2 separate regions of the Homo sapiens genome follow, and region 1 is linked to region 2. The links come from fine-mapping of genetic effects on gene expression. A gene starts in region 2. The other region holds a variant in brackets. All regions are shown on one strand. Distances are from middle to middle.

Evidence for each region. PIP is the estimated chance that this variant, and not a neighbour inherited with it, causes the effect.
Region 1: its variant is fine-mapped to the expression of TMEM219 in whole blood (TOPMed, PIP 0.98).

What each region holds. Positions count from the first base shown.
Region 1 is chr16:30,739,854-30,750,340 of GRCh38, reverse strand. TMEM265 (transmembrane protein 265) reads right to left here and starts at 9,699. Exons shown (of 3, transcript NM_001256829.2): 1 at 9,634-9,699; 2 at 8,433-8,600; 3 at 5,145-6,559. The coding sequence starts at 8,597. The coding sequence ends at 6,398. It overlaps PHKG2 (phosphorylase kinase catalytic subunit gamma 2), which reads right to left and starts at 1,916. Exons shown (of 10, transcript NM_000294.3): 1 at 1,851-1,916; 2 at 1,426-1,538. The coding sequence starts at 1,520. SRCAP (Snf2 related CREBBP activator protein) reads right to left here. Exons shown (of 34, transcript NM_006662.3): 34 at 8,932-10,487. RefSeq lists silencers at 1,690-1,829, 1,870-2,169 and an enhancer at 8,212-9,411. The variant GATATA/A (reference allele first, on the strand shown) is at 5,417.
Region 2 is chr16:29,953,440-29,969,568 of GRCh38, reverse strand. It overlaps TMEM219 (transmembrane protein 219), which reads right to left and starts at 7,490. Exons shown (of 6, transcript NM_001083613.2): 1 at 7,437-7,490; 2 at 6,261-6,462; 3 at 5,980-6,169; 4 at 1,315-1,544. The coding sequence starts at 6,425. RefSeq lists a silencer at 7,208-7,657 and an enhancer at 8,008-8,117.

The DNA.
Region 1 (10,487 bases), 780 kb before region 2:
CCTCACATAACTCACTTGGGAATTCGGCCACCCACATCTAGTTAAATCAAGGGATGTAAACTATTGATCCACAGGCCAAACACAGCCCTCAGATGTGTTACGTTTTGGCCGGTGCAATTTTTTTTTTATTTTTTTACACAAATCTGAATTCATACATCATAGGTGGGGCAAAACCCTCCACCTTCCACAACACTTCCTACTCTCTTACTCTTGGCCACTTCACAGTTTCAATTTCCTGCGCAACCACTAAGGGCATCTGAGTTTGAGGCCATGTTTTAATTATGACCCAGCTTTAATGAGCCTCTTTGAGAATCTGATGAAAGCTGGAGACATCTACCACACGCATACATTTTTGCGATTTTAAAGACCCCCCCCTGAACTCCTACTCATACCTCAAGACCCAGCCCAAAGGTGACTCCTCCTGAGAAGGTGTGCTTTTCTGGAATCCCATAGCACTTGATACAGACCTCTACCTATCTAGCCTGATGCCTTTTTAACGTTCACGTGCCAATTTCAGTCACTTCGGGTGGAGTACCTCCAGGGCATACGCATCTTTTCTGCCCTCCCCGTGTTGAGCTTTGTGTTGAAGGCATAAATGAATGAATCCGTGAAAAAATGGGGTTGACCCAAGGTAAGAGTCTAGTCACTAGGTGTTCTCCACTGATCACTGATTCTTCCCATTTAGAACTATTCAGTCAACCAGGCGCGGTGGCTCACGCCTGTAATCCCAGCACTTTGGGAGGCTGAGGCGGGCAGATCACGAGATCAGGAGTTCAAGACCAGCGTGGCCAATATGGTGAAACGCCCGCCTCTACTAAAAATATAAATTAGCCGGCGTGGTGGCGCGCGCCTGTAATCCCAGCTACTCGGGAGGCTGAGGCAGGAGAATCACTTGAACCCAGGAGGCAGAGGTTGTAGTGAGCCGAGATCGCGCCACTGCATTCCGGCCTGGGCGACAGAGCGAGACTCCGTCTCAAAAACAAACAAACAAACAAACAAAACCAACTATCCAGTCTTCTCCTGAGAAAACCTGAACTTGAAAGACACACACACACACACAGACACACACACCACCACCACCAGCACCACCAGCACCAGCACCACCACCACCGAAAGACACACACACACACACACACCACCACCAGCACCACCACCAGCACCACCACCAGCACCACCACCACCAGCACCACCACCAGCACCAGCACCACCACCACCAGCACCAGCACCACCAGCAGCAGCAGCAGCAGCAGCACCACCACCACCACCACCACCACCACCACCACCACCACCACCACCACCACCACCACCACCACCACCACCACCACCACCACCACCACCACCCGCGAACTCTCCAGCCTTCAAACGGAAGCGGGAATGCTGGGGCTCGACCTCTTTGGACCTCCGTTTCCCTGGCCGCGGCCTTACCTGCCGATGACGTCCTTAGGGTCGTACTTCTGGTAAAACTCTTTGGCGGCGGCCCAGTCGGGCAGCTCATCCTCCGGCCCCACGTCCAGCGTCATCCTGAAGGAGGCGGGGGCCTGCGCGGAGGAGGAGGGCAGTGAGGGCAGGGAGGCCCACAGGCTCTGAGACGACCCGCATGGCGGCTCCCGGGGGCGCAGCCCTTGCAGCTGGGGCGCCAGGGTCCTGGGGGGTGGGGGGGGGTGGGGGAAGGACCCGGACTGGGGAGACCCCGCAGAAGAGCCTGGGGGCGGGAGGATGGCAGGGCAGGGAGGGGAGTGGGGAGATGTGCCCAGGAGGCAGGGGGAAGGGGCGCAAGGGCAGGCGGCTGTTGCCGCGCAGGCGCATTCGGGCGGGCGCAGGAAGGGGACGGGGGTCTAGCGCAGGCTCACCTGAGGGGGCAGGCAGAGGAGCCAGGGTCGACGCGAGCTGCGCTGTCGCCGGGTTTGCCTGCAGTCGCTCACCTTAACCCCCGGCGGCGGGCGACAACCCAAGGCTCCGCCTCCATCCTGCCCGCCAATGGTCAGCGCCGCCCGAAGACTGAGGCTCAGAAGCCCTTCCAATTGGAAACCGGCCGCCCAATTGGGGCTGGGGCGTGAGTCGGCGCTCGGCTGGACCTAAGGCTGCAACGCGACGCCGGGGCGCGGCTTCAGACGCGGCCAATCACCGAGTGGCATCTGCGGGACAGCAGAGGGCGGAGCTTGTTGTCACGTGGGCTTGGAGGCCTGGAATGGGACCCGGAAGTTGGGTTTACTGGGAAACGTGATCTCTGGGTGGCGGGGAAGCAGGACCTTCCCGCGCCTCTAGTTCCCAGACTTGAGCAGGGTTCCCTCGGTCTCCTCCAAGCATCCCTAACTGAATTCAGCATTTTCTCTTTTTTCAGACAGGGTCTCGCTCTGTAGCCCACGCTGAGGCTGCAGTGTAGTGGCGCGATCATAGCTCACTGCAGCCTTGAACTTCGGGGCTCAAGCGATCCTCCCGCCTCAGCCTCCCAAAATGCTGGGATTACAGGCTTGAGCCACAACGCCCAGCAAGCTCTTTTCAATATTAGCAGCCTGGCCCAAAGCGCCTGTCCTGAGTACACTCCAGCCCTTAAAACATTTGGACACACGCAGCTTGGACTCCAGCTTGGCCTCTTAGTTCGGACTTAAAATGCCAGAGGAAGCCTTTTCTGTGTCCGCTTCAACTCCTCCTAAATACATCCAAAGCCCTAGCGTTTACTATCTGGGATTTACACACTTTCTCAATCTTCCACCCTCTCCCAAAAGCCTTGTATCACACTCTGTTCTAAACCCACCAGGTTGTTAGATTCTGCCAGGAGTGACTCAGTGCATAGCTCAAACCTGGCATTCACTAACAAATTTTTATGACCGTCTAAGACCTAGGAACTAGACTGAGAGCAATGAAACAACACACACACCCCTACCCTGTGGAGGTTATGTTCCAGCCAAAGAGGAAAAGAATTAACTTATCTCCCTACAGCTATCTTAGAAATGACACTTTGGGATTACAATTATGAGGGAAGAAAAATGAATTCAGGTAACTTTTTATAGAGTACTATGACTCTATACCATCAATCTAAAGGCAAAATTGCAAAAAATCTTGAACTTTACTTAGATTTGTTGTTTGGTAATATAACAGGATAATAATTCTGAAGCTGAGTAATCAATATATTGATGTGACTGGAAGCCAAGGTTCTTAACTGTGGGAATCTGGAATCTGGAATCTGGAATGGGGAAAGTGGAGAAAGAACCCTATGATTGACTGGAATTTTTAAAAAGATTTTTAAAAGATGTAAAGTAGATAACATTAACTATTTACTGGCTCTTACCTCTGCTTTCAGAATGCCCTAAGCAGTAACTTCCCAGTAGAACGCCTAGTGTCTAGATGCTGATTTCTCAATAACAGTACCCAATAAAAGGAACTAAGTCTTTTCAGGAGAAATGGCCAATTTCTAGGCTTCAGCAGGGAAAGTACAAGGTGAGTCTGGAGTGATTTGTGCCAGACATTACTAATGAGCGGGGCTTATCACAAGGACACAGGAACCAGATTGAAAGGGTTTCCATAGGTCAATATCGGGGATAAAAATAATAATGAAGAGCATGAGGGAACTTGCTGATGTGCTGCAAATGTTATATTCCTATAGGTGGTGAGTGACTGACTACACAGGTTTATTTACGTTAAAACATTCGTCGGCTAGGCACGGTTAACTCACGCGTGTAATACCAGCACTTTGGGAGGCTGAGGTGGGTGGATCACAAGGTCAGGTCGAGACCAGCCTGACCAAATGGTGAAATCCCATTTCTACTAAAAATACAAAAATTAGCCGGGCGTGGTGGCACACGCCTGTAATCCTAGCTACTCAGGAGGCTGAGGCAGGAGAATCACTTGAACCCAGAAGGCAGAGGTTGCAGTGAGATCACACCACTGCACTTCAGCCTGGGTGACAGAGCGAGACTCCATCTCAAAAAAAAATAATAATAATCAAGCTGCACACTTAAGATCTATGCGTTGGGCCGGGCGCGGTGGATCACACCTGTAATCCCAGCACTTTGGGAGGCCGAGGCGGGTGGACCACGAGGTCAAGAGATCGAGACCATCCTGGCCAACATGGTGAAACCCCGTCTATACTAAAAATACGAAAATTAGCAGGGCATGGTGGCTTAAAACCTAGATGACAGGTTGATGGGTGAAGCAAACCACCATGGCACATGTATACCTACGTAGCGAACCTGCATGTTCTGCTTGTATCCCAGAACTTAAGAGTTAAAAAAAAAAAAAAAAACAAAGAACAGGCCAGGTGCAGTGGCTCATGCCTGTAATCCCAGCACTTTGGGAGGCCGAGGTGGGCGGATCACGAGGTCAGGAGATCAAGACCATCCTGGCTAACACGGTGAAATCCCGTCTACTAAAAATACAAAAAATTAGCCGGGCATGGTGGCGGGCGCCTGTAGTCCCAACTACTTGGGAGGCTGAGACAGGAGAATGGTGTGAACCCAGGAGGCAGAGCTTGCAGTGAGCAGAGATTGTGCCACTGCACTCCAGCCTGGGCAACAGAGCGAGACTCCTTCTCAAAACAAACAAACAAAAAAACAAAAACACTTTCTAAAATGTGTTACCCTTTTTTCCTGATTTAGAAATTGCAGAGGGAATACAATAAAATCTTATCTATAGAGCAGTAGTTCTCAAACTATGTGTACTACAATTAATTGGGAAACTGAGAAATCCTGATGCCAAGGCTGTACCTCACACCGATTAAGTCAGAATGTAGTCTGGATAAAGCCCAGGCCTAACTACTTTTTAAAGCTTCCAGGTGGTTCCACTGTGAAGCTATGTTGAGAACACTGCCCTGTATATTTATCTTCTACCCACTGTTTCAATTCTAACTTCTGAGACCACCAATCTATTCTCTTCCTTCTTCCTGGAGCATTTGGGAACACTGAGGACAGCCATCATGTGCCTCTCCTTCCCCTCTAGTCTCTTCAGTGTGCAACATCTCCAGTTCCTTTAGGTGCTCTTCTGGACTCTGAATTATGGTAAGGTGCTTGCCAGGACAGACGTACTCCAAAAGGCATGACTCATAATAACCCCAAACTGCAAACATCCCAAAGTCCACCAACAGTAAATGGACAAATTGTGATACATTCATATGACTGAATACTACACAGCAATGAAAACTACACCTATTCCAAATATTGACGAATCTCACAATGTTAACATGAAAAGAATACATGATTCCATTTATATAAAGTTCAAATGCAGACAAAATTAAATGACACTGCTAGAAGTCAGAATGGTGGTTACCTGTGGGAAGAAAGGAAGTAGCAGTGATTGGGAGGAGTATAAAGGAGGCTTTGAAGTGTTGACAGTGTTCCAATTTCTTTACTGAATGTGGTTATTCACGTTTGCTTTGTGTTAATGAACTGTATACTTGTTTTGGGTATTTTCCTATATGTAT[GATATA/A]CTTCATAATTTTAAAAAAAATTTGAAATATTATGAGGTCCAAGATAAAAGATATGAAAATCCATTTTAATCACTCAAATCTCCATGTACAGGATGGTTGTTGCTGTTACCCAACTCTTTCACTCCTCTCTCAGCTCTGGAACCAAACTGTCTGGGTTCAGTCTCAGCTCTACCATTTAGTAGCTGAGGACCTTGTGCAAATCTGTTTGTTTCTTCAAGTATAAAACGAGAACACTGTCATTTTAGAACATTTCTTCCAGTTTTCACTCAGATAGTTGGTACCTATCATATGTGATATATTCATATGATGGATATGATAGTACAGACATCTACTGAGTGACTGAAAACTGGAGGAAGTTAAGAAATATAAAGTGCTTAGAACACAGCCTGGAATATAGTAAGTAATAAATAGTAGCAGCTGCTACTACTCTTGGCCTCAGAGTCTCTGTGGACGTACAAGGGAGAAGCTGGGGTCTTTCCAAGAAGGGAAACTTCCAGAAGAAGAAAATAAAAATTGTTTCCTTCTCTTGGAGCTCCTGGATGAGGTGGATGCTGGCTTCTGCTATCAGTCAGATGTCCAGTCTGGCTCTCACCAAGGGCCCAAGGGAAAGCAGGAGGAGAACAATTAGACAGGAGTATTTCACCACTAAAAAAGGCTTTTATTACAAAATGAATTCTAATAAAACCAGGCCTGGTCTTCAACCCCTCCCGCTGGGTAGAGGCCCTAGGGTGGGCTAGGGTAGGGGAGATGGGGGTGGGGGGCCCTGAAAGAACAGAGCAGGCTGCCCTCCTCTCATCAGTCTCAGCTGCTGCCCTCCTTTTATAAAGGGCTAGAAGAGCTCTTCCAAAGCCCCTTGAGAGAGTCCCCATCCTTCCAACCAGGATCCTTCCAACCACTGCTGTCACAGGACCTTAGCAATGCCGCATTGCAGGATCCAGGAGGTCTCGGCTGGCTCTCAGCAGAGGCCATCCAGGGTCACTCAGCCTGAGCGATGGCGTAGGAGAGCAACCACAGCAGCAGGGGACCCAGAATGAGGACAGCAAGCCAGACAGCAAAGCTGGCCAGGATGAGTTTCCGGGCCCGGGCCCCCCAGCGCACTGCCTCCTCGGACCGGCCTGCTTTATGCCGCTCTTCCGCCTGTGGGGGCAGGTTCTTGGTTAGGTTCTCCCCCTGCTTCTGCCCCAAGGTGCCCATTTCCCCACTCCGCTCCCCCTTCCCTGTCACGGATCAAAATCTCACATCCAAACCCTCTACCTCCCTTTCCAGTTTCTGATTCTAACCTCTCATCTGCAAAATAAGGTACCCATCTCTGGGCCCTGCCTACTTCTCAGGGTGGCCATAGCTCACAAGATCGCCTATGGGAAAGTACTTTCCAATTCTGTTATTCCCCATTCTTTCCAACTATCCAAGATTGATTCAGAATTTGTAACTATTGGCAAGAAACAGTGAGGCTAGAGTAACTTCACTCATGCCCAAACACCACCTCATTCTCATAGCCCAATGGGCCTCATCTTTTCCATCTTTTTTTTTTCTTTTTTTGAGACAGTTTCACTCCTGTCACCCAGGCTGGAGTGCAGTGGTGCAATCTCACTGCAACCTCCTCCTCCCAGGTTCAAGCAATTCTCGTGTCTCAGCCTCCCAAATAGATGGGATAACAGGTACGTGCCACCACGCCCAGCTAATTTTGTATTTTTAGTAGAGACGGGGTTTCACCATGTTGGTCAGGCTGGTCTCGAACTCCTGACCTCAAGTGATCTGCCCACCTCGGCCTCCCAAAGTGCTGGGATTACAGGCGTGAGCCACTGCGCCCAGCCTCTTTGTTATCATTAAGGGCCCTTTTTAGGATTTTGCCCTAATGGAACCCAGGAGTTCTTACAGTTTCTGACTGTTAAAATATGTCTAGGGTTGAGAAGATTCCAGCATGAAGTTTAAGTTAGCCTGTGTAGCCTTTCCTAAAGGACATGTGCTGTTTTTTTTTGTTTTTTTTTTTTTTTGAGACAGAGTCTTGCTTTGTCACCAGGCTGGAGTGCAGTGGCATGATCTCAGCTCAATGCAACCTCCGACTCCGTGGTTCAAGCAATGATCCTGCCTCAGCCTCCCCAGTAGCTGGGATTACAGGCACGCACCATCACGCCCAGCTAATTTTTGTATTTTTAGTAGAGACGGGGTTTTACCATGTTGGCCTAGATGGTCTCGATCTCCTAACCTCGTGATCTGCCCACCTCGGCCTCCCAAAGTGCTGGGATTACAGGCCTAAGTCACCACGCCCGGCGGACATGTGCTGTTTCTAATAGGCTTTTTGAAATGGTGAAGCCCTCTCAAAAACCCAAGTGTCTTTCAGACTCCTAGAGATTGCGCTCATCACCGTTCAGCGGCCTCCAGCCTTGCCCCCTCCAATTCACCCTCGATGTAGGCCTTGAGAGTGGATCTTCCTAAAACTCAAATCTGACCATGTCACTTTCCCCTGCAGGAGCCATTCAATGCCTCCCCAGTACTTTCAAGATAAAGTCAAAACTCTTAAGCACAGAACTGGAGGCCCTTGGGAATCTGGGTCCTCTAGCTTCATCTCTCACTATTCCTCACTGGTCCAGTCATGCTCCACAGGCCTTTGTACACACTGCTCCTTTTATCTGGAATGCCCTTCCACACTTACTCACTCACCCTTTAAGATTAATCCTGTCACCTCTCCTAGGATGCCTTTCCAGTCACCTATTCTACCATATACACATATATAATTACATACATAGATCTTCCCTGGCTCCCACACTGTCCTGTGCTTCCTGTATTACGGTACTGATGAACTGCATTCTATTAATTACCCATTTTCACTGTCACCTCTTTCATTAGATTATGGGTCCTCTGACGACAAGGAACCCTGTCTTATTCTTATTTCTGGCACTAGGCCCAGAGCACTGATAGGTATTCAGTGACTGGTCAATGTAGATAGATCAGATACATGAAACCATTGCCTTATACCCACCCCCATTCCCATGGGAATTGCACTCCTCACCTTGATGGCAAACACCAGAGCCATGACTCCCAGGCAAGAGCAGCCACAGATAATGCTAGTAGCTGCCAAGCAGCGGAGGCGGAGCCAGCAGCAGCGGATGGGGGATGGAGGATGAGCAGCTTCCGTGTTGCCCAAGATCTCCACTGCCTTCTCCTCGTCCTCCATCACCTGTGGGCGATAGTCAAGGTACTTGTGAGCCCAACAACAGAGCCCTTGGCCTTGCTTGCTCAGACTCCACCCCTCTCAGAGCATTCTGTTCTCATGGCCTAGCCTGGCACTCAGGAATGTTGCCTTACTGGGGAATTCCTCTAGTGACTCACAGAGCAGGAGAGGAAATGTGTGGCTGGAATCCTTTTACCTAAGCTTGAGGTTCTGAGTCTTTGAAAGCAAGCCAGTGTAGACAAGGCATTATCTGTATTATTTAGTGTTTCAACAAGTGGGAAGAAGCCAAATGACAGGTGCACACCGAGAAGGAGGAAAAATACAAACTCTTGAAAGCTGCTATGAATCTGTTATTTTAATCTGTATTTCAAAGGACTCTACAATTCCCCCAAATTCCCAAGAGGCTGCCCCCTGAGTATTATAGATGTCAGAGAGCAGGACCCTAGGTACTGCAACCCGTTTCAAGCAAAGCAGCCATTTTACATGAAAACAGTTATGGGAATGGAGAAAGGTAAGGAAAATGTACCCAAGTAAGCCCTTTATTACCACTAAAACCAAACATCAGAAAGACTTTACTTCCCTAAGTCAGGGCTTCCTCTGCTATGCTGCCTCCCTGCCACCTCCTCTCTCCAATTTAACCCAGGCCACATAACACAATCAGACTAGTACACTGAGTCTAAATGACCTCATTACCACACAGAAACCTGCAAAATGATGCCCTACTTAATCATTTCTTGTCTCCCTACTTCTCAGGTCCTCTAGGCCCTGGCATCAAACCACCTTTCTACCCTTATCTCCAACCATTCCCCTACAACCCAGACAAAATGAAACCACCTTGGCTCCCTGAACCCAAGTAACGAAGGATAGGAAAGGTGAAAGGGGCGAGACAAGTAGAGAGCAAAGAATGATGTGTGCCAAGAAGCTGCAGGGAAGTAGATACAAAGAAATAACTCAGATGAGGTAAGCACAGAGTCAACAGGAGGACACAAGGAGGGCCCAGGGAGTGAACAGAGAATGTAAAAATGAACAGGGCTCTTACCTGGCTATAGGCCTTGAAGGACTCTGAGTTTCGGCTCCTGCCTCAGCTTTGGTTTGGCTTGGGTGGTGATGGAGCTGACTCAGGGCTCCAAGCCAAGCCCAGGGGTGGGGTTGAGTGGCCAGCCACCACGTGAAGAGCCCAGGGAGCTGGGAAGGGGTGTGGCTGACTCAAACCAGTTTGGCTAGATGAAGAGCAGGGGAGGGCCCAAGGGATGGAGCAACTGGAGCTAGGACGCCTGCCCTCTGGAAAAAGTTGTGAAAGGAAGCACCTGAGCAAGAGGGATAAAAGGGAAAGGTCTGAGGCATCAAAGAGCTCCGAGGAACGTCTAGGAACCGAGGGAAAAGAAATGAGAGGAAAAGGATATCTGTGACTTCAAACTGACTGGGGAAAGGCACCCTACCACATCAAATTCACCAATCTTCCCTCTTCTTGGGTAGATTTCTGCCTGGAACATATAGTCCTGGGCTAGAGATCAGGTGCTAGGATCTTTGCAAGAACAAGAGGGAGGAGAAAAACGATGCCCAAGTTCCCACCCAACCCTCCACCAGACCAGAAAATCAGAAGCCTCCTTACGCGGATGCTCATACAGAAACTAAGTTTATTATTTTTTCTTCTTAAAAAAAAAAAAAAAAGAAAAAAACCTCATTGTAGAGAAGCCCCTCCCCCTTCCCCTAAGGGTGGGGGGCTGTGTGAAAGACAGCTGGGGAATCAAGTACAAGGGGGTGGGGACAGAGACTATCTTGCCACCCTTAACACTGCCCAGCCACGTGGGGTGAAGGGGAAGGGGACTGTGATGATCCCCATTTCCATGACAACCAGTTGCCTACCCCCTACTTTGGTGGGAAGAAGGGAGA
Region 2 (16,129 bases):
TAGCTGGGACTATAGGTGTGTACCACCACACCCTGCTAATTAAAAAAAAAAATGTTTTTTTTAAGAAATGGGGTCGCCAGGCGCAGTGGCTCACACCTGTAATCCCAGCACTTTGGGAGGCTGAGGTGGGTGGATCACGAGGTCAGGAGATTGAGATCATCCTGGCTAACAAGGTGAAACCCTGTCTCTACTAAAAATACAAAAATTAGCCGGGCATGGTGGCAGGCGCCTGTAGTCCCAGCTACTCGGGAGCCTGAGGCAGGAGAATGGCATGAACCTGTGAGGTGGAGCTTGCAGTGAGCCGAGATTGTGCCACTGCACCCCAGCCTGGGTAACAGAGTGAGACTCCGTCTCAAAAAAAAAAAAAAAAAAAAAAGCGAAAAAGAAACGAGGTCTTGCTATGTTCTCCAGGCTGGTCTGGAACTCCTGGCCTCAGGCATTCTCCTTGCTTCGGCCTTCCAAAGTGCTGGGATTACAGATGTGACACCTGGCTGAACACTTTTCAATCTCTAGGCCTGTGCGCATGCTGGTGCCTTTGCCTGGAGTGTACCTCCCCCTCTCCTGAACCTCCTCTACTGCAGTCCCTGTCCAAATCTTCCTCATTCTTCAAGGATCATTCTGACTTGACAGAAGGTGTGGGTTGCAACCCTGGCTCTGCCACTTAACCAGTTGTGTGGCCTGCAGCAATTCACTCCCTTTCTCTAAACCTGTTTCCTCATCTGTAAAATGGGATAATAACACCTACCTCAAAAGGCTATTTTAAGATCAAATGAATTAATGAACCCTGAGAGCACTTTGTGCATTATAAACCACTGTGCACAATGCTCTCTGGTAAATGCCACCTTCTCTGTGATGCACTCTCCATAAATGTTCAAGTTAGGGTTAATGGCTCCTTTCTCTGTGTTTGCATAACACTTTGCTCACATCTCTCTAATAGCAATTAGCCCATTTGCCTCTTATTATAGCTTCTGAACTCCTTTGAAGTAGAGAGAATGTTTTAAAGACAATAGTAAACAACAATAGCTGTCACTTATCAAATCTCTATGTCCCAGGCAATGTGCTGGGCACTTCACGGTCATTCTCATTTAATCCTTATTTGATGGAATTAAGAGATAGGGTCATGTTTTCTGTTTTACAGATGAGGATGCTGACACTCAGAGATGTTTAGACACTTGTTCTACGTCACACAGCCCCCAAGGCAGGGTTATAAAACCTGTGCTTTTTCTACAAGGTAGAATTGTTTCCAGGGACCTTCAAGATACAGTAGTCAGCAGGCAGTCTACAAAACCCTGGCGACCCATCTGAGGCTCTTACCGAGGTGAGCAGCTTGGTCAGCACAAGGCCTTCATGGCTCCAGACACTAACACATTCCTCACCCATTCTAGGGCTCAGGGTGGCATTTCCAGCCCCCTCCTCTGAGCAGGATATGGGTGGCTGGCTGGAGGGTAGGATTCCTGGAACAGCACTAAAATATAGGCAGGTTCCTGCAGTCCTTTCTGTGGTCACCCTGGCTGTGATAAGGACCAGTTGTCCTGCAGAAGATCCTGTGAAAGGCACAGAAGAGAAAATGGAAGAAAATGAGAGGTGACGCGGGAGCCTCTGTCTTCACGCTTCTTTTCTTGTATTTTCTTTTTTTTTTTTTGAGGCGGAGTCTCGCTCTATCACCCAGGCTGGAGTGCAGTGGCGCAATCTCGGCTCACTGCAAGCTCCGCCTCCCGGGTTCACACCATTCTCCTGCCTCAGTCTCCCGAGTAGCTGGGACTACAGGTGCCCACCACCAGGCCCAGCTAATTTTTTGTATTTTTAGTAGAGACGGGGTTTCACTGTGGTAGCCAGGATGGTCTTGATCTCCTGACCTCGTGATCCGCCCGCCTTGGCCTCCCAAAGTGCTGGGATTACAGGCGTGAGCCACCGTGCCCGGCCCTTTTCTTGTATTTTCTTTCTTTCTTTATTTTTTTGAGATGGGGTCTCACTTTGTCGTGCAGGTTGGAGTGCAGTGGCACGATCCCAGCTCACGGGAGCCTCAACCTCCTAGGCTCAAGTGATCCTCCCACCTCAGTCTCCTGAGTAGGCAGGGCTACAAGTGTGTGCCACCTACCTGGCTAATTTAAAAAAATTTTTTTGTAGAGACAGGGTATCACTGTATTGCCCGGGCTGGACTCAAACTCCTGGGCTCAAGCCATCCTGCTACCCTGACCTCCCAAAATGTTGGGATTCCAGGCATGAACCACCACGCCTGCCCCTAGTCATTTTTTAAGGCTTTCTATAATACCAGGTGTTTTGGCATTGATTCTATTCAATAAAGTATTCCATATACCATTATTTATATCACTGAGAAATGAAAATAACTTTGTATCAATATAAACACAAATTAAGTTGTAATTTAAATTAACTTAAATTACAATCAATACAACAACCATACTAATACTCGCAAGGCTGCAGTGAAATGGGCAGATACACATTGCCCATGTCAGTTTGCATAAACTAGTTCATTCTTTTTAAGAAAGCAGTTTCTCACTTGGTACCAAAATCCATTAAAAGGTTCTCACCCTATTTTAAATTAGTGGGGAAAGGATGGCCTCAGTAAATGGCCTTGGGAAAATTTCCATGTAGAAAAAAACATAGCGTCAAACTGTTATCTTATAAAATAAAGTTCAGATGTATTAAAGAACTATACAAACTAAAAAAAAACTTAAGTATTTAAAGAAAATACAGAATATTTTATTTTATTTTATTTTATTTTATTATTTTTGAGACAGAGTTTCACTCTTGTTGCCCAGGCTGGAGTGCAGTGGTGCAATCTCAGCTCACTGCAACCTCCACCTCCTAGGTTTAAGCAATTCTCCTGCCTCAGCCTTGTGAGTAGCTGGGATTACAGGTGCCCACGACCATGCCTGGCTAATTTTTTGTATTTTTAGTAGAGACGGGGTTTCATCATGTTGGCCAGGCCAGTCTTGAACTCCTGACCTCAGGTGATCCACCTGCCTCAGCCTTCCAAAGGCTGGGATTATAGGAATGAGCCACCACGCCTGGCCAGAATATTTTCTAATTTTAAAATGAGGAAGGGCTTCCTATGAAAGACACAAAACCTAAAAGTTTTAATAAAGGACAAGAGTGATAAACCTAACCTCATAAAAATTAAAGACTTCTATGCAATGAAAGATAAGTTAAAAAAACAAGTAACATATTGAAAATACCTATAATATATTTAAATGACAAAAGGTTTACTATCTAGAATAAAGACCTACAAATCAAGAAGAAAAAGACAAATAACTTAAAAGAAAAAGGAACAAAGGAAACAAACAGGTAATTCACAGGCAACATGAATACAGACAATAAACCATAAGAGGCTCAACCTTACTAGCAATCAAGAGAAAGTAAATAAAACAATTGGGTAATACGCCAGACCCGGTAGCTCATGCCTGTAATCCCAGCACTTTGGGAGGTGAGGCAGGAGGATCACTTGAGCCCAGTAGTTTGAAACTAGCCTGGGCAACATAGTGAGACCACATCTCTATAAAAAATACAAAAATTGGCCAGGCGCAGTGGCTCACACCTGTAATCCCAGCACTTTGGGAGGCCAAGGCGGGCGGATCATGAGGTCAGGAGTTCAAGACCAGCCTGGCCAACATGGTGAAACCCCATCTCTACTAAAAATACAAAAATTAGCTGGGCATGGTGCCACATGCCTGTAATCCCAGCTACTTGGGAGACTGAGGCAGGAGAATCTCCTGAAACTGGGAGGCAGAGGTTCAGTGAGCTGAGATCGCATCACTGCCCTCCAGTCTGGGTGACAGAGCAAGACTCCTTGGGCTGGGGGGCGGGAATTAGGTGAGCGTGATGGCGAGCACCTGTAATCCCAGCTACTCAGGAGGCTGAGGCAGGAGAATGTTTACTGCAAGCCCTGCCTCCCAGGGATAAGCAATCCTCCCACCTTAGCCTCCCAAGTAGCTGGGACCACAGGTGTGCACCACCACGCCTGGCTTTTTTTTTTTTTTTTTTTTGTATTTTTAGTAGAGACAGAGTCTTGCCATTTTGTCCAGGCTGGTCTCGAACACCTGCGCTCAAGCAATCTGCCTGCCTTGGCCTCCCAAAGTGCTGGGATTACAGGCATGAGCCACCACATCCGGCCCTAACTGTACACTTTCAATGGGTGAATTGTATGGTACATGAATCATATCTCAATAAAACTATTATATATCTATTTAAAAGTAAAAAGAATGGGAAAGAATTGTCCCAAGTCTGCATATATCGGACACATTCCTTATTTTTGTTAACATACATGTACATCTGGACATGCAGAGACCCACTCCCCCGACACATATATACTCACAGGAGAATCTTAGAATGATAGTGTTGTAAAGGACCTCAGAAGTCAGAAAATACCACCCTCTTCCATCCCTCTTTATCTTAGCATATTTTAGATAAGGCCAAATGTCACACAGGGATTATTGGCATCCACTGACATTTTCACATTCTCCCTATCGCTTGTCATTTTCCCAGAAGACTATAGCTCTTTGGAAATTGATGGTGTCTAATTTTTTTCTGCATCTTTTGTGGCATACAGAACTATGCTAAGGAAAAAGGGGCCTCTAGGAGGAGGTGGCTAAAGGATGAGAAAACATTAGGTCAAACCTAGCCCATTTCATCCTACCTCCAAGGATAGACTCAAAGAACATCAGAACTGGCAGAGGAAGAAAGCATTCATAGAAAACCTACCCTGTCGGCAGCATGTTCACTGAAAGCCCTAATCACAGAAGTGACTAAAGTCCAGGGATGTGCCCAAGGTCATCATTGGTGAGGTCAGAGGCAGGGCCCAGCCCTGAGTGTTCTGATACCCGACCCCACAGTCCTCTGTGATCTCACCTTACTTTTTTTTTTTTGGCGCAGGGTGGTGGGGGGGGCGCGGGGCGGGACAGAGTCTCTGTTGCCCAGGCTAGAGTGCAGTGGTGTGATCTCTGCTTATTGCAACCTCCGCCTCCCAGGTTCAAGCGATTCTCCTGCCTCAGCCTCCCAAGTAGCTGGGACTACAGGCACCTGCCACCACACCTGGCTACTTTTTGTATTTTTGTTTGTTTGTTTGTTTGAGACGGAGTCTTGCTCTGTCTCCCAGGCTGGAGTACAGTGGCACGATCTTGGCTCACTGCAACCTCCACCTCCCGGGTTCAAGCAATTCTCCTGCCTCAGCCTCCCAAGTAGCTGGAACTACAGGCTTGCACCACCAAGCCTGGCTAATTTTTTTTTTTGAGACCGAGTTTTGCTCTGTTGCCCAGGATGGAGTGCAGTGGTACGATCTCGGCTCACTGCAACCTCCGCCTCCTGGCTTCAAGTGATTCTCCTGCCTCAGCCTCCTGAGTAGCTGGGATTACAGGCACGTGCAACCATGCCCGGCTAATTTTTGTATTTTTAGTAGAGATGGGGTTTCACCATGTTGGTCAGGCTGGACTCAAACTCCTGACCTCATGATCTGCCCGCCTCGGCCTCCCAAACTGCTGGGATTACCGCTGTGGGCCACCGCAACCAGACCACCAGGTTAATTTTTGTATTTCTAGTAGAGACGGGGTTTCACCATGTTGGCCAGGCTGGTCTCGAACTCCTAACCTCGTGATCTGCCCTTCTCGGACTCCCAAAGTGCTGGGATTACAGGCATGAGCCACCGCACCTGATTTTTTTTTTTTTTTTTTTTGAGACAGAGTCTTGCTCTGTCACCCAGGCTGGAGTGCAATGGTGCGATCTCGGTTCACTGCAACCTCCATCTCCTGGGTTCAAGCGATTCTCCTTCCTCAGCCTCCCGAGTAGTTGGGATTAGAGGCGCCTGCCACCATGCCTGGCTAATTTTTGTATTTTTAGTAGAGATGGTGTTTCATCATGTTGGCCAGGCTGGTCTTGAACTCCTGACCTCAAATGATCCACCTACCTTAGCCTCCCAAAGTGTTGGGATTACAGGCGTGAGCCACCACACCCAGCCTCTGATCTCACCTTTCAATCCCATCTGACTTCCCAGGACTGTGGCCTGGAATGTCCGGGTCTTGTTCCTGTCTGGACCGTCTCCGAAGTTCAAGGTGGTCAGCAAGCCCACGACGTGAGACCCTCGCCACTTCCCTGTGACTGTCCCATTCCTGGGACACAGGGTCAGCTGGCCAAAAGATCTCAAAAAAGAGACCCAGTCCTGTGAGCAAAAGAAGACGGGTGAGATGAGATTAGCAGCAAAAGCCTGTCTAGGTTGGAAGGAAGAGCGGGTACGGGGGTGGGGAACTTACCTGGGGGATGTCAGGGCTGCGCAGGCCAGTCCTGTGGGTGAGGAGGAAGCTGCCAAGGCCCAGGCCAGAGAGGCCAAGGAGCAGCAGGATCAAAGTGGCACAGACCAGAGGTGGGTGGTGGGCCAGACACAGGTGCAGGTTGTGCCCTGCCTGGCAGTTGCCCATGGGGAGCAGAGGGGGCTGAGCCTCCGGGGAGAGCCTGCTGGAAGACAGGGAGGGAGAATGGGACAAGAGCACCGCTTTTACGCAAAGAGAAAAGAAAGCTCAGAGAAGACAAAGGACTTCCCAAGGCCACACAGTAAGTGGCAGAGCCAGAACAAGAATCCAAGGTTCCCGACTCCAAAAGTTCAACTCCCTGCACTGCTGGATAAATATTTGCTGCATTTCATTTCTGAAGTAATCTAAGTGGAGGCAGAGCAGTGTACTCCGTGCTGGAAGAAGGAAACTGAAAGGGAGACTTCTCAGCTGGAGAAACAGGAAGCACTGTTCTGGGGCGAGGATTTGGCTGAGGAATAGTTCCAGCCAGAGCCCAGACAAGGGAAGACTCTGGAGAAGAACTCCACTGTGCAGCTAAACGGCTAGATCTGAATCCCTTTCTGTTATTCACTGACTCTGTGAGCTTAAGAATCCATGAAATGGGAGTTCTGAGAACACCAAGTAATAAGGATTAAACGTGGCGGATGAAGCAGTCTGCGTGGTATTTGGCCATGCAGGAATTCAACAAATGTCCACTTCCTTTCTCTTTCTCGTACAGATCCTCAAAACCGGGTAAGGCGAGGCAAAAAATACTGTGAGGGAAACTGAGGCTCGCGGACTTTAACACAGGAGGGGTAGGGCCAAGATCTGAACCCCGCCTCCTGCTTCCAAGTGGGGTGCTCCTTCCCACGCAAGGTGCGACGGCCTGATGGAAAAGAACTTCTGGAAGGCGAAGAGATAAACAGGGGTCGGGGGAAAAGAAGGGAGCCACGGAAATGTAGGTGTCACAAATGCTCAGCCCTGCCCCGCCTCCCGTCCGGCTGGAAGGGGGTTAAAGGGAGGGGAGGGCAGAGTCTGAGGGTCCGCCGCCGCTGGTGCACCTGAGCACCCCCTCCCCGGAAAGCCCCCGCCCCGAACGATTGCAACGCCCTCGTCCCCTCCCGGTCTCGCGCGTCGGATCCGCCAGCCGCTCGCTCTTACCCCTCGGGGCCGGGCGGAGGCCGGCGCCCCCCGCGACGTCACGAGCGGGGCCGCGAGGGGGCGGGGTCCGTGCTCTGCGCTTCCGTCCCCGACCCTCCTCCTCGCGCGGCCCCGCCCCGCGGCCGGGTCCGCATGCGCAGTGGCCACGCGGGCGCCAGCCTCGCAGCTCACCGCCAGGGTGGGGGCGTACCAAAGGGACACCCAAGGAAGGAGCCACCAGAAAGGAAAACCTCCGTGGGAGGGGTGGAAACGGGAGCGAGGCCAGGGAGCAAGTGCGAGAAACGTCGCAGAACCCGTAGGCTCCCTCCAGAGAGACTGGCGAGAACTGCCCCAGAAGCTTGTCGCGGGCATTTTTGGGCTGTGCGTCCCCTACCCGCGCCAATAGCACAGACCAGCCGCGCCCGGGTTCCCGGTGAGGACTCGGCATCCGCTCAGAGTTGCAGGGCTGCCACTTGAGGACTCTGTCCACTGGGGCTGGGAGTGGTGTTTTGGACTCCGCTCTTCTGTGCACCCCGATCTGCACCTTTCTCGTGGACCCTGACTTTTAGTGACTCCTTAATGTATAGGATGCTGGAGCTGAAGAGTTGCTCAGTAGAGAGCATCTCAGTTCACTTCTGCCCAAGTTTTGGAGGTGAGAACATCTGACTGGAGGTAGCATGACACATGGAGCCAGGAACTTTGGGTTCAAATCCTGACTGTCCGTACCCTCGCATAAGCCATAGCCGCGCTCTCAGGGGACTAAGCTTACCCCTCTACTAAAGAGGATCATCCTATCTATCTCACCGGTTGGATCAGAAGCTTAAAGGGTAAAATGTGGGAAAACATGGGCCCAGTGCCCACTAAGCACACAGGACAGATGCTACTTGAAACGGAATCTATTTAATTCGACTGTGGCTTCCTTAAGGCAGAGGCCATGTCGTTTGTATCAACAGCCACAAAAGTTTGTGGCACAAAACCTTCGCATATACAAATGATTTTTTTTTTTTTTGAGACGGGGTCTCAGTCTGTCGCCAGGCTGGAGTGTAGTGGCGCGATCTCGACTCACTGCAACCTCCGCCTCCCGGATTCAAGCTATTCTTCTGCCTCAGCCTTCCGAGTAGCTGGGACTACAGGCGCACGCCACCACGCCCAGCTAATTTTTGTATTTTTAGTAGAGACGAGGTTTCACCATGTTGGCCGGGATGGTCTTGATCTCTTGACTTCGTGGTCTGCCCGCATCGGCCCCCCAAAGTGCTGGGATTACAAGCGTGAACCACCACACCCGGCCGATTTTTTTTTTTTTTTTTTTTTTTTTTTGACAGAGCCTTGCTCTGTCATCGCCCAGGCTGGAGTTCAGTGGCACAATCAAAGCTCGCTGCAGTCTGGACGTCTTGGGCTCAAGAGATCCTCCCGCCTTAGCCTCCTGGGTAGTTGAGACAGCCGGTAGTCACACGCCACCCACCATGCCCAGCTAACTTTTGCATTGTGTGTAGAGACGGGGTTTTGCCATTTGCCATGTTGCCCAGGCATGTCTCGAACTCCTGACCTCAAGCAGTCCTCTCGCCTCGGCCTCCCAAAGTGCTGGGATTACAGGCGTGAGCCACTGTGCCCTGACTAGTCAAATGATTTTTGACAAGGGTGCTGTGGGCGTTCAGTAGAGAAAAGAGTCTTTTCTGTGCATCGAAGGACACAACAGGCTGGGCACGGTGGCTCAAGCCTGTAATCCTAGCACTTTGGGAGGCCGAGGCGGGTGGATCACCTGAGGTCAGGAGTTTGAGACCAGCCTGGCCAACATGGTGAAACCCCATCTCTACTAAAAGTACAAAATTAGCCAGGCATGGTGCCGGGCGCCTATAATCCCAGCTACTCCGGAGGCTAAGGCTGGAGAATCGCTTGAACCTGGGGAGTGGAGGTTGCAGTGAGCTGAGATTGCACCACTTCACTCCAGCCTGGGCAAAAGATCAAAACTCTGCCCCACAAAAAACAAAAACAAAAAAAGGAAAGGACAGTGAAAAGGCAACCAACAGAATGAGAGGAAATATCAAATCATATATCTTATAAGGGGTTAATATCTATAATATATAAAGAACTCCTACAACTCAACAACAGCCCAATCTCAGCTCACCTCAACCTCTGCCTCTCAGGCTCAAGGGATTCTCCTGCCTCAGCCTCCCGAGTAACTGAGATTACAGGCACACGCCACTATCACCTGACTAATTTTTGTACTTATTAGTAGAGACAGGGTTTCACCATATTGGCCAGGCTGATCTCAAACTCCTGACCTCAAATGATCCACCCGCCTTGGCCTCCCAAAGTACTAGGATTATAGGCGTGAGCCACCGCGCCCGGCCTAATTTTTTGTATTTTTAGTAGAGATGGGGTTTCATCATGTTGGCCAGGCTGGTCTCAAATTCCTGACCTCAGGTGATCCACCCGCCTCAGACTCACGAAGTGCTGGGATTACAGGTGTGAACCACCGCACCAGCCAAGTATACCAACATTTTGACTTAATCCACTCAACAAGCCCTCAAAGTGGATGTTATTCTGGAAAGCTGGCCCTTAGTTTAAGTCAGGGGTCCCCAACCCCTGGGCCGTGGGGCCAGTACCAGTCCGTGACGTGTTAGGAACTGAGCCGCACAGCAGGAAGTGAATGGCTGGTGAGAGAAGCTTCATCTGTATTTACAGCTACTCCCCATTGCCTGCATTACCGCCTCAGCTCTGCTTCCTGTCAGATCAGTAGCGGCATTAGATTATCATAGGAGCATGAATCCTATTGTGAACTGCGCATGCGAGGGATCTAGGTTGCTCCTTATGAGAATCTAATGCCTGATGATCTCTCACTGTCTCCCATCAACATCAGATGGGACTATCTAGTTGCAGGAAAACAAACTCAGGGATCCCACTGATTCTACTTTATGATGAGTTGTATAATTATTTTATTATACCTTATAATGTAATAATAATAGAAATAAAGTGCAAAATAAATGTAATGTGCTTGAATCATCCCGAAACCATTCCTCCCCTGGTGGAAAAATTGTCTTCCATGAAACTGGTCCCCAGTGCCAAAAAGGTTGGGGACTGCTGGTTTAATTTAACCAAGGTCATACATATATTAGGTGGCAGAAGTTGGGTTATGATTTAAGCCTGACCACAGCATGGCATGTGGGAATGAGAAAGCCCTGTTGAGGCTCGTTCATTCAATAAGCATCTGTTGGCTGCCAGGCTGTGTATTCTGTGGGCTGGGAATATAGTGGTGGACAAAGTATTCATGATCTCTGGCCTCCTGGAACTACAATCTGGCATGTTCAGGCTGGGCGCAGTGGCTCATGCCTGTAACCCCAGCACTTTGGGAGGCCGAGGCGGGAGGATCACCTGAGGTTGGGAGTTCAAGACTAGTCTGACCAACATGGAGAAACCCCATCTCTACTAAAAATACAAAATTATTCGGGCGTGGTGGCATATGCCTGTAATCTCAGCTACTTGGGAGGCTGAGGCAGGAGAATCGCTTGAACCCAGGAGGCGGAGGTTGCAGTGAGCCGAGATCACGCCATTGCACTCCAGCCTGGACAACAAGAGCGAAACTCCATCTCAAAAAAAAAAAAAAAAGCAACAGGAAAAGTGCATGTTTGCCTAAACCTTTTTTCTTCTTCTTCTTTTTTTTTTTTGGAGGCAGAGTTTCACTCTGGTTACCCAGGCTGGAGTGCAGTGGTGCGATCTCAGCTCACGGCAACCTCTGCCTCCTGAGTTCAAACAATTGTCCTGCCTCAGCCTCCCTAGTAGCTGGGACTACAGGCGTGCGTCACCAGGCCCAGCTAATTTTTTTGTATTTTTAGTAGAGACAGGGTTTTGCCATGTCATCCAGGCTGGTCTCGAACTCCTGACCTCAAGTGATCCATCCACCTTAAGCTTCCCAAAGTGCTGGGATTACAGGTGTGAGCCAGTGAGCCCCACCTTTTTTTTGTTTCTTTTTTTTTTTGAGACAGGGTCTTGGTCTGTCACCCAGGCTGGTGGGCAGTGGCGCAATCTTGGCTCAGTGCAACCTCCCTCCTCACCATGCTCAAGCAATCCTCCCACTTCATCCGCCCAAGTAGCTGGGACCACAAGTGTGCACCACCATGCCAAGCTATTTTTTTTTCTCTCTTTTTGTATTTTTAGTAGAGACGGGGTCTCACCATGTTGTGCAGTCTGGTCTCGAACTCCTGAGCTCAAGCCGTCTACCCGCCTCAGACTCCCAAAGTGCTGGGATTACAGGTGTGAGCCACCCTGCCCGGCCCCATCTAGACTTTTTTTTTTTGAGATGGAGTCTTGCTCTGTCGCCCAGACTGGAGTGAAGTGGTGTGATCTCGGCTCGCTGCAACCTCCAACTCCTGGGTTCAAGTGATTCTCCTGCCTCAGTCTCCTGAGTAGCTGGGATTACAGAGGCATGCCACTGTCCCTGGCTAATTTTTGTATTTTTAGTAGAGACGGGGTTTCACCATGTTGGCCAGGCTGGTCTCAAACTCCTGACCTCAAGTGATCCACCCGCCTTGGCCTCCCTAAGTGCTAGGATTACAGGTGTGACACATCGTGACTGGCCAAAAAAAAATTTTTTTTTGAGACGGAGTCTCGCTCTGTTGCCCATGCTGGAGTGCGGTGGCATGATCTCTGCTCACTGCAAGCTCCGCCTCCTGGGTTCACACCATTCTCCTGCCTCAGTCTCCCAAGTAGCTGGGACTACAGGTGCCTGCCACCACACCCAGCTAATTTTTTGTATTTTTTAGTAGAGACAGGGTTTCACCATGTTAGCCAGGGTGGTCTCGATCTCATGACCTCGTGATCTGCCCGCCTCGGCCTCCCAAAGTGCTGGGATTACAGGTGTGAGCCACCGCGCCCGGCTTTTTTTTTTTTTTTTTAAGGTGGAGTTTCACTCTTGTAGCCCAGGCTGGAGTGCAATGGCGCAATCTCGGCTCACTGCCACCTCCACCTCCCGGGTTCAAGCGATTCTCCCACCTCAGCCTCCTGATGGGACTGCAGGTGCCTGCCACCACGCCCGGCTAATTTTTGTATTTTCAGTAGAGACGGGGTTTCACCATCTTGGCCAGGTTGGTCTCAAATTCCTGACCTCTTAATCCCTCTTCGGCCTCCCAAAGTGCTGGGATTGCAGGCATGAACCACTGCACCCAGCCCAAAAAAATTTTTAAGTTAGCTGGATGCCCAGCCACTCTGTAGTCCCATCCTGTAGTCCCAGTACCTGTAGTCCCAGCCACTCTGGAGGCTAAGGCAGAAGGATCACTTGAGCTGCAATGAACCGAGATTGCCACTGCACTTCAGCCTAGGTAACAGAGTAAGACCCTGTCTCTAAAATAAATACATAAACAAATAAATATTACTTTATTAAATCATGTCAATAACAAAGCAAATTATTATCCCTATTTTATGGATGAGAAAACCAAGACTTAGCAATGTTAGCAAACTTGCCCGTGGTCTGCAGCTAGCCCACCAGCTACATGTCCCACACAGGAAAGAACAATAAAAATATAGAAAAAAAATAGAATAATATGATTGCCTGGAATAAGAAATATTTATTCCAAAATAGAATTTAAAAATAGGATAATATGATTACCTGGAATAAGAGATACTTTCTGAAGCAAGACACACAAATATAGAAACCATAAATGAAGAAGGTTGATAAATTTAATTGTTTAAAATTTAAAACCTCTGTATGATAAGATCCCACGTGAGTGAGAAGTGGGAGAAAATCACTGCGGTATATATAAACTGTCAAGGGATTAGAAGTTGCTAACATTTTTTGTTTTGTTTTGTTTTGAGATGGAGTCTCGCTCGGTCACCTAGGCTGGAGTGCAGTGGGTCCATCTCAGTTCACTGCAACCTCCAGCTCCCAGGTTCAAGCGATTCTCCTGCCTCAACCTCCTAAGTAGCTGGGATAACAGGCGCTTGCCACCACACCCAGCTAATTTCTTTTGTATTTTTAGTAGAAATGGGGTTTCACCATGTTGCTAGGCTGGTCTCGTACCTCTGACTACAAGTGATCCACCCACCTTGGCTTCCCAAAGTGCTGGGATTACAGGCGTGAGCCACCACGCCCAGCCTGTTTTGTTTTTTACTAAGGTAAAATTTACATAGAGTGAAATGCACAGATCTTAAAGTATAAAATTTCATGAGTTTTGACAAATGTAATGCCTATCTAAACACCCCAATCAAGACATAAAACACTTCTAGGTCCAAGAACTTCCTTCCCTTCCCTTTCTAGTCAGTCCCCACTGCCCGTGTCCATAGGCAACTACTATCCTGATTCCGTAACCAAAAATAGTTATTTTTTTCTTTAAAATGCCCAGATTCACTTAATAGACTGTAAGTGTTGTTAGAAGAGGATCTGCCTGATTTTTTTCTTAGTATTTGTGTGTGTGTGTGTGGTAAACAACATATATAATATAAAACTTGCCATTTTAGCTTTTTTTTTTTTTTTTTGAGACAGATCTCGCTCTGTTGCCCAGGCTGGAATGCAATGGTGCAATCTTGGCTCACTGCAACCTCCACTTCCTGAGTTCAAGTGATTCTCCTGCCTCAGCCTCCCAAGTAACTGGGATTACAGGTGTCTGCCACTACACCTGGCTAATTTTTTGTATTTTTAGTAGAGACGAGGTTTCACCGTATTGGCCAGGCTGGTCTTGAACTCCTGACCTCAGGTGATCCACCTGCCTTGGCCTCCGGAAGTGCTGGGATTACAGACATGAGCCACTGCACCTGGCCATTTTAGCTATTTTTAAGTGCACAGTTCAGTGGTATTAATTACATTCACAATTTTGTGCAACTGTCACTACTATTTCCAAAACTTTTTCATCACTCCAAACAGAAATTCTGTAACATTAAGCAATAACTTTCTTTTTTTTTATGGGAAAAAAATGGATGATTTATTATATAAAAGTATGATTGGCAGAATACAGAAAAACTGTTTTTTTTTACCTTTACGTGTTTATTACAAACACCAAACAAGGTGTAACAATTGGAAGAACGAATTTCAAACTACCCAAAATTATTCATTTGGTGAAATTATTCAAGTCACGAATGCTAAGTAAATAGATGCACTTCAAAATATGCAAAGTGTGGCTGGGTGCAGTGGCTCACACCTGTAATCCCAGCACTTTGGGAGGCCGAGGCAGCCAGACCACCTGAGGTCAGGAGTTTGAGAGAAGCCTGCCCAACATGGTGAAACCCCGTCTCTACTAAAAATACAAAAATTAGCCATGCATGATGGCAGGTGCCTATAATACCAGTTACTTGGGAGGCTGAGGCAAGAGAATCACTTGAACCTGGGAGGCAGATGTTGCAGTGAGCTGAGATCAAGCCACTGCACTCCAGCCTGGGCGACAGAGCAAGACTCTGTCTTAAAAAAAAGAAAAAAATCAATGTAATACACCACATTAATAGAATGAACCGGGGAGAAAACACATGGTCATCTCAATTGATGCAGAAAAGGCTTTGAAAAAATGAACACCCTTTCATGATTTTATTTATTTATTTATTTATTTATTTATTTATTTATTTATTTATTTATTTTGAGACGGAGTTTCACTCTTGTTGCCCAGGCTGGAGTGCAATGGCGTGATCTCGGCTCACCACAGCCTCTGCCTCCCAGGTTCAAACAATTCTCCTGCCTCAGCCTCTGGAGTAGCTGGGATTATAGGGAAGCGCCACCACACCCGGCTAATTTTTTTGTATTTCAGTAGAGATGGGGTTTCTCCATGTTGGTCAGGCTGGTCTCGAACTTCTGACCTCAGGTGATCTGCCTGCCTCGGCCTCCCAAAGTGCTGGGATTACAGGCGTGAGTGAGCCACTGCGCCCAGCCAAACCCCTTTCATGATTAAAACACTCAATAAACTAGAAATAGACAGGAATGTCCTCCAAATGATAAAGGCCGTAAACCACAGCTAACATCATACTCTACAGGGAAAGACTAAAAGCTTGTACCCTCAGACCAGGAACAAGACAAGGATGCCTGCTCTCACCACTTCTATTCAACAAAGTACTAGAAGTTCTAGGCAAAGCAATTCGCCAAGAAGAAACAAAAGACTTCCACATTGGAAAGGAAGAAGTAAAAGGATCTCTTTTCACAGATTATATAATTATATATAGAAAAATCATAAGAAATCCACACAAAAATTTTAGAATTAAGTTCAGCAAAGTTGCAGGACATAAAATCAACTCAGATTTTATACACTTGCAGCAAACAATTTGAAAAGGAAATTTAAATAATAACTTCCTTTGCAATAGCATCAAAATAATAAAATACTTAGAAATTTAACCAAGGAGCTCAAAGATTTGTACACTGAAAATTACAATATACTGCTGAAATAAATTAAAGAAGACCCCCAAAAGAGAAAACATCCCACATTCATGGATTGAAGGACTTAATAGTGTTAAGATGGCAATACTACCCAAAGCGATCTGCAGTTTCAATGCAAATTCCTAACAAATCATATCAAATCCCTATGATTTTTTTTTTTGTTTTTTTGTTTTTGAGATGGAGTCTCGCTCTGTCACCCAGGCTGGAGGGCAGTGGAACAGAAAAACCCATCCTAAAATTCATACAGAATCTCAAGGGACCCTGAATACCAAAATGGTCTTGAAAAAAAGTTGAAGGACTCAATTTCCTGATTTTAAAACTTACTACAAAGCTATCATAATCAAAACAGTGTAGGGGCTGGGTGCAGTGG